Linked DNA regions of Homo sapiens. The protein of the gene in region 1 purifies or fractionates together with the protein of each later gene. This does not show direct contact. Each region holds a gene or a part of one and is shown in the gene's direction. Other genes may lie near its edges.

Evidence for each region. The genes of interacting proteins can lie anywhere in the genome.
Region 2: the proteins of SCHIP1 (region 1) and EXOC3 purify together in Homo sapiens (affinity purification with mass spectrometry; one large-scale study listed by BioGRID and IntAct). This does not show direct contact.

The regions. Positions count from the first base shown.
Region 1 is NC_000003.12:159,759,244-159,762,743, forward strand, and holds part of SCHIP1 (schwannomin-interacting protein 1), read left to right. Parts: intron 1-3,500.
Region 2 is NC_000005.10:452,436-457,398, forward strand, and holds part of EXOC3 (exocyst complex component 3), read left to right. Parts: intron 1-934; coding exon 935-1,616; intron 1,617-4,453; coding exon 4,454-4,571; intron 4,572-4,963. UniProt on the Homo sapiens protein: Component of the exocyst complex involved in the docking of exocytic vesicles with fusion sites on the plasma membrane.

The DNA.
Region 1 (3,500 bases):
ATCTACACGTATAGACTAGTAAGTTAAGATTAACCCATTGGCTCTACAGAAATAAAAGAGAGCTACCATGCATCCAAGAAGGCCAACCTGTCTAATAGAGATAGATCTGGATTTTTAATTAGTGGAGGAACCAACTTTGTATCACCCAACAAGGAAGGTGATGAAAAGATTCGGAGACATTTTTATACTATATTTCTCATTGTTTCTAGAATGAAATCCATAGTCTTCAAGCTGGAAGTAGCTTTTTAGTTCACTCATTATTTATTCATTTAATTAATTGTTACTATTTGCCAAACACTGTGATCAAGTGTCTGGGCTCCTTCATGAGGAATCTGTGGTCATAAAGTTGGTTAGAGATAGGGCCAGAAACAAACCCCAGATGTTCTGTATCCAGGACCCTTTACCCCACAGGGCTGTTAAATATCTCCATGTAGTTATATTCAGGTGATTAAATAGGAGAGCATCTGTGTATTGCATGTGACCTGCATGTAATTCATGTAATAAAGATGAAATACAAACCCTTTGCCAGCCATTTCTTTATTACTCTAAATGCCACGACTTAAGGTTCAGCATCGGGGCTAATAATATAAGAATTAGTTTGGAAATTCTGCAAATAAATATTTTCCTGTCTATTCATACTCTTTGATTCAAATATTTCAATCATGTCCTTTCTCAAATGTTGCCTTTACAGATTAAAATCCTATAAATAGCACTGACCCCTGAGGAACATGATCTTCTTACCCCTATCTTTAAGTATTAATCTAGACAGTTTCCTACTGATGACAAAATAAATACCCCAGTCTCATGGTGGCTTTCTTTTTAAAGGATTTGTTTTGCAGGGGGGTGGGGGGGATATACAGCACATAGTTCATAACAATGTGAAATTGCATTTTTGGAAGTATCTATACTCTTCCTTTATACAATTAAATCTCCCTACTTGCTAAATATTGCTAGACTTGGTGGTTTAGGAGGTTGAGTACATGTGAGCAAAGGGGAACAGCTGTTCTTGCCAGATGCCTTCTTCACTGCACAGACATAAATACTGCCCAAGGAGCCTCTGCAGGGCAGACTGAGATCTAGTTTGAAGTAGCTGCAAGGAGACCCTTTCTGACATTTTTGCTTGGTAAATTCATTCACATGCACCTTGACCAAAGGATACTAAGCTGAGTGACTAGGACAAGAATTCTGAATGCAAACTACTCAGGTTCAAATCCTGGCTCTGCCATCTACCTTACCAGCTTTTTGACACTTGGCAAGTTACTTAACCTCACTGTCTTCAGCCTCCTCATCTGTAAGTGGGGATAATAGTAGTTTCTTCATAGGATCGAGGATTATATGAATTAGATATTATCGTTAATAATTCCAGCAACAAATACCTGTTAAGCTCCTATTCCATTCCAATTACCGTGAATGAGGGAAATTGTCCCCCACTTCATGGAATTTAGAGTATTTTTTTCACACTAGAAGCCCTGACCCATCTAAGGGTTGGGAAGTCAATGCAGTAAGGTGTGACCAGATTTAGTTTTACATGAATTCGAATATGATTTTACAAAATAAGAGTTTTATGAAACTTTCTTTCCCTTGCATATATTTTTATATGAATGTTTGGCCTATGTCTTGATATAAAAGTATTTCTTATGAGTCTAGTGAGAAGATTAGCAATTAAACAGCAACCTCAATACAGTGCATAAGATAAATGCAGTGAGTGTCACGGGCACGTGCGAATGTCACCCGACCCAGTAAGGGCAGGTACAGAGAATCAGGCAAGCCTTCCCTGAGGAAGTAACATTTAAGCTGAGACTTGAAGGATGAGTAAAAATTTACCAAAAGAAGTGGGGTGGAGGAGGAGAAACAGTTCCTTTAAGAGCAGTGAGTAGACCTGGGTGGGTAGGGGAGTAGTTAATGAAGCAAGGGAGAAACTTGTTCAGATTTGCATTTTAGTAAGGCCACTCTGGCTGCATGAAGAGAATGGGCAGGAATCAGTTGGGAAACTTTAGTAATTTCAGGACACAGCGGCCTAGACTGGGGTGGGGGCAGTGTGTATTTGAGAGGGATCTTGTACTTACGTAGAATTGACAGGACTTGTTGATTGATGGGGAAAGGTGCTGGAGCCAGAGCACAAAGGTGCTTATCCCACACTTCTGATGTCTAATTTACAAAGGTTTCAAGAGACAAATCTAAGTCTGAAAGCTCCAAGCTCCTAACTTGAAAAAATGTCCCTGTAAACAGGAAGACAGAATCTTTCAATCACTTTGCAAATCATCTCCCTATCCTGCTGGACATATCTGCAGGCTGTTGCTGGGCCTAGGAGTTGGCAGGGCTTCCTGTTCCAAAGTGGGAGGGTTCCTGGCAGGAGATGGAAGGCTGGAAACAGAAAGGAAACTGGGCTAGCCAGGCACCTTGCATGAAGAGAAAAGAAGGGAAACCTGGTACTTTCCCATCTGATCCAGAAATTATCTGGTCGGAAAATAATTTAAAAGTACAGGTAATTCAAAGATGTTTATATTTGGCTTTGAAATGCCATGCATTTTTGGCACTAGACTTACTTTGCCAAACATTTTTCTTAGGCCTTATTTTGCATTCCCTGAACATGGACCATCTGGGCAACAGGGGGATGAGCCCAGAGCTCAGAGGGAGTCTGGGTGGGTGGCTGAGGAGGTCCTAATATTCAAAACTTGGAATGAAACCACAACTCTCTCTCATCACCCCAGGTGATCAGTACTTATCTGTCTACCTGTGTCCTGCCACAGAGCAGGGAGCTTTTTGTGATCTAAGCCATGCCATGTCATATGGTGAACTGAAAAACAGCTATCTAATTCCCAGCACACCAAATGTTTCCTACTTACATCTTCCTACTCACAGGGCCACCTCCACCCCGCTGGAGTGGCAGGCAGGGCTCCACAGCAATCTCAAAATCAAACCGTATTTGGAGCACAAGACAGGCTGTTTACAGATGTTACCATAAAAGACAATTTAAATAATCATCAGTACCGTTTTACAAAACAGCTGGCCAGACCGGAAGGCCCCTTTTCCAGTTATTCCTAAGATTGCTGCTTCCAGAGGAGTTGAAAGGTTAGATTACCTTCCCTGGCTCAGGTCTACCTAGCACAGGAGAGTCGTGCCTCACAGAAATCACTTCAAAAAGGATCTCAGCACCACATCCCACTAGGGCTTAGAAGAATCCTCAGGGTGGCAGCCACTCCCTACTTAGGAATCCCATGCATTCCCCTCTTCTTCCATCTGGACTGTGCCACGCCAGGGAATTCATTTGGTCCAGGCTAGAATTCACTGGGAACAATTAGCAACAGGCCCAAATCTGGAAGTTCAGAGAAATTGGTTCTCTCCGATTTGTTATAAAATTAAGTAATATTTTTCACAATCACCACAGAGAAAAGGGCATTTCCTAGTTTCCCAGTTCTTACAGGTCAGAATGGTTGGTTCACAGGAAATCCTTAGTAGGCGCTCTGTGATGCATCTATGTTTTTCCAAGTGTTGGTATT
Region 2 (4,963 bases), on another chromosome or scaffold:
TTCTTCACATCTTTAAGTTCCTTAGGCATCTTTAAATCGTTGTTTTAAAGTCTTTCTCTAGTAGATCTGCCATCAGATCTTTTACAGGAACAGTTTCTTATGTTTTCCTTTGAATGGGCCATACTTTCTTCTTTCTTTGGGTGCCTTGTGATGTTTTTGTTGTTGAAAAATGGACACTTGAATCGAATAATGTGATAACTCTGGAAATCAGATCCCCTTCCCAGGTTGATGATTCTTGTTTTTGGTTGTTGTAGGCTCTCTGTGCCAAGGCACAGCCTGAGGTGTGAACTTCAAGGTCGTGTCAAGTCTTTTCTGAGCCTATGCCTTTGCCTGGGCATGCATTGGCCACTTCCGAATTTTTCCTATAAATGCAGTTACTTTTGAATGTCTTCATTCATAAATATCTGGCTTTCAAGAAGGGGAACAGATGAAGGGGGTGGTGAAGACATTGGCCCTTTAAATTCCCTGGAGCTCTGTGGGGGTGAGGAGGGACCTGTGAACAGGGGAAGATGCAACAGTGGCCACTTACCTCTTCGCACCTCTGTGGTCAGAAGCAGCAGTCAGTGATCTGAGTACAGATCTCCGGTGTGGAGGACAGGGTTCTTTTTGCCCAGCCAGGCTGCAGGCTGTGTGCAGGCAGCTTTAGGAACACATCAGCACATGCACAGCTGCCTGCGGGGTGGGAGGTGGGGCCTCGGTAGCCACTGCCCAGCTGAGAGCTGCAAATGACCACAGTTAACCACAGTTTACCATTTATGCCTTTAATAGACTCCAGAGTTCCAAAGATAGTTACCTCAGACACATCCTGCCATTGCAGTTGTTGTTAGCTAGGGAGATGTGGCTTCCTGCTCTGCCGTGTTCCCAGAACACCGCATGCAGGCAGCCTTTTATGTGGTGGTGGTTGTTTATGTTGTGTCTTGTGCCTTCTCCCTAGTGCCTGAGATTGTGAGGGAGACCCAGGACCTAATTGAACAAGGGGCACTCCTGCAAGCCCACCGGAAGCTGATGGACCTGGAGTGCTCCCGGGACGGGCTGATGTACGAGCAGTACCGCATGGACAGTGGGAACACGCGTGACATGACCCTCATCCATGGCTACTTTGGCAGCACGCAGGGGCTCTCTGATGAGCTGGCTAAGCAGCTGTGGATGGTGCTGCAGAGGTCACTGGTCACTGTCCGCCGTGACCCCACCTTGCTGGTCTCAGTTGTCAGGATCATTGAAAGGGAAGAGAAAATTGACAGGCGCATACTTGACCGGAAAAAGCAAACTGGCTTTGTTCCTCCTGGGAGGCCCAAGAATTGGAAGGAGAAAATGTTCACCATCTTGGAGAGGACTGTGACCACCAGAATTGAGGGCACACAGGCAGATACCAGAGAGTCTGACAAGATGTGGCTTGTCCGCCACCTGGAAATTATAAGGAAGTACGTCCTGGATGACCTCATTGTCGCCAAAAACCTGATGGTTCAGTGCTTTCCTCCCCACTATGAGATCTTTAAGAACCTCCTGAACATGTACCACCAAGCCCTGAGCACGCGGATGCAGGACCTCGCATCGGAAGACCTGGAAGCCAATGAGATCGTGAGCCTCTTGACGTGGGTCTTAAACACCTACACAAGGTAAAGCTAACCTGGCGCCTGTGTTGGCTCTTAGGTAGAAGCCGTGTGTGAGAGGGGCCTGCAGCTGCTTGCTGGAGAGCCGACCTCAGGGTGTTGCTCTGGGCAGGTGCTCCGAGCCCACAGCCTTGGTTTCCAGCCCAGGGGTGTCTTCTTTCTGCTCTGCCTGCTGGTGCCCAGCCTCTGGTGTTTGAACACTGTTGTGCTTGGGAGGGATCTCTGCTCTTGGCCTCCAGCCCCCGTTGAGCTTGACAGGGTGCAGCTCTGGGCTGGGCCTGTTTCCTGTGCTCACCGTGTGCTGACTTGCTTCCTTGCAGTGACACCCTGAGGCAGGTGTGTTGTTACCCCATTTTACAGGTGAGGACACATGGTCCCAGGCGGGGCTGGGACTGGCACATGGCCACCCCACTGGGGAGGAGACCACTACATCACCTCCCTGGCTTCCAGCATCCCGGGTTTGGTTTCTCTTCACCAATATCCTATAGCAGTGAGTCTTTCAAAAATAAACAGTTACAAGTCTAGATAGTTCGAGGAAACTCCATCATCCTTTTTGTATCCTAGTACGAGGTTTTGTCACTTCACTTAAGGGACCATGAACCACTCTGTGCGTGGATTAATTTGAAGTAGTGTTGAAAAATGGTGCAGTGGTGGGGGTATTCTGAAATTCTTTAAGATTAGGTAGCCGAAATGAAAATTTATTTCAATTTTCCATGGTTTCATGGTTAGAAAATAATATTAAGTAATGTATTGGAATTTCTTCTTCTTCTTTTTTTTCTTCCGCCCATCTTGTCACTGCAGTGGAGAAATTGAATAAACCTCATTTTTTTTTTTTTTTTTTTTAGCAGTAAGGCATATTTTTTTGTGTGCTTTGTTTACTGGTATCTGCTTATAGAGAATTTGCATTTCAATACAGAAGGACAGAAGAGAAAGGAAGCGCCCCCTGCAGAGAATGGTCACCGTGACGCTCTGTGCAATGGTGGCTCTCTGTGCAACCGTGGCGCTCTGTGCAACTGTGGCTCTCTGTGCACAGCCCTGGACTCACCTCCCCTGGCTGCCGCTCATCCTCATGGCCGCCCATTCTGTAGCCTTGACAGTGCAGGTCTCCCCCTCCGTGCCTGGTGTGTGTCAGCAGCCCATGAGGCAGGAGGCAGGGGACACGGCCAGTGAGTGGGAAGCTGGATTCCAGTCCCATCCCTGGGCCCTCCCGGGCCATGGCCACTAGGCTGGGCTGTGCATGTGTGCACCTTGCACAGTTTGTGTCTTGATTTTGTCTTTCCACGTTGTGAGTGTTTTTCTGTCCTTGGGGAGTCTCGTGAGTTCCATCACCCCGGCCTTTCTCAGGGGAGGTTGAAGTGCTCCACTAGAAACATTCTCACACGGAATTGAGGTTCTTGGGAAAAATAATCCAGATTAAATAAAAGTCTTTTAAAATGTGCAGAATTTTAGGAAGTACTTTTTCACTTAGGAAGCTCTCGGATTTCTTATAGTGGACTGGCTCTTAATCATTTTATTCAGTGTTACTCTGAGAACGTATTTACGGAACATAGCATGAGGCGTGTGAGTTGAAAGAATTTTCTGAGTGGTCAAACCTTAGACTTAAAAAAACTTTTTAATTTTAATTTTTGTGGGTACATAGTAGGTGTATCCCGGCTTCACGCCATTCTCCTGCCTCAGCCTCCCGAGTACCTGGGACTACAGGCGCGTGCCACCATGCCCCGCTAATTTTTTTGTATTTTTAATAGAGATGGGGTTTCACTGTGTTAGCCAGGATGGTCTCAATCTCCTGACCTCATGATCCGCCCGTCTCGGCTTCCCAAAGTGCTGGGATTACAGGCGTGAGCCACCATGCCCGGCTGATAATAACTTTCTAATGAAAACTTTTCCTGAAATGTAGCATGTGTTTCCTGTCTTCTGGACAGTAGACCTCACGTAGTTTTGCCTGTTCTTGCGGATGCGTTTTTATCAGTAATGTCCTGTATTGTACGTTCCAGTCATCACCGTCTGCAGAGCATATTGATGTGGACTGCAGTGGCTTGTTTCCAAAGGACAGCACAGCTGCCCCTCCATACTCAATGGGGAGGGATTCCAGGACCCCCCTTGGCTATCAAAATCCTCCGTAGCCCAAGTCCCCTTTATAAAAGGGTATAGTGTTTGCACGTAACCTGCGTACATTCTCCTTCATGCTCTAAATCATTTCTAGATTACTTATAAGACTAAATACAATGTGAATGCTATGGAAATAGTTGTTCTATATTTTTTGAAATTTTTATTATTTTTTATTGTTGTTTTTCCCAAATACTTTCAGTTTGTGTTTGGTTGAGTCAGTGGACGTGGCGCCCGTGGCTGTGGGGGCGGCTGTGCTTGTCGTTTTGACTGAGTACGTTTGTTTATTCAGCGCCTCCTGTTTGCCAGGCCCTGCCTCGGCTCTGCAGGTGCAGTGAATAGAACACACGTCTTCCCCACAGGAAAGGCTCTTCCACATTTGAGCCCCAGCACCTCATGAAGCTGGCGCAGCAGGGTGAAGCTGGGGTTGGAGGGACTCAAGTGGTCTCGGAGCCAGTGGGTGATGCCACAGAGACCCCAAAGCCCTCGGCCCCTGCCCTGCACTTTCCCCGGTTGGAGGGACTCACGCAGTCTGGGAGCCAGTGGGGTGATGCCACAGAGACCCCAAAGCCCTCGGCCCCTGCCCTGCACTTTCCCCTGAGCTGTGGGCCGGCTGTGACCAGGAAGTCTCCAGGGTGGTGGACATTCATGTGTCAAGTGAAACAGTCTCGGCACACTTGGGCATGCTCTTCTGTGTCTGTCGTGGTTTGTCACTCACATTCCTGGTTCCCCCATAGTACTGAGATGATGAGGAACGTGGAGCTGGCCCCGGAAGTGGATGTCGGCACCCTGGAGCCATTGCTTTCTCCACACGTGGTCTCTGAGCTGCTTGACACGTACATGTCCACGCTCACTGTGAGTAGGGCTGGCCTGCGTGCCACAGACCACCGTGCTGGTTATATGAGTAACTAGGGCTTGGCAGCAGGCAGGAGGCAGGGGGGAAATGCCTTAGCGTTGACTTCCTAGGATGCATTGCTCAGTTGCCCGGGCTCTGCTTCCAGGCCTTGACAGGTCAGTTTGCTAGAAGAGGAGAATGGCCCCTTCTCTGGGCCTGGATCTGAAGCTTGTCCTCTGCTGGAGACGTGAGCCTGTGCCCTACTCGGCAGGCTGGCCAGGGCCCAGAACGTCTGAACCGTGTGTGGCAGCACCTGCCAGGCTCTCGGCTCTGAGTCCCATGGTTGGGGGGGTCCGTCAAGGACCAAAGGGCGAGTCCATTTGCAGCCTGGTGACCACCAGGTGGTCTCAGA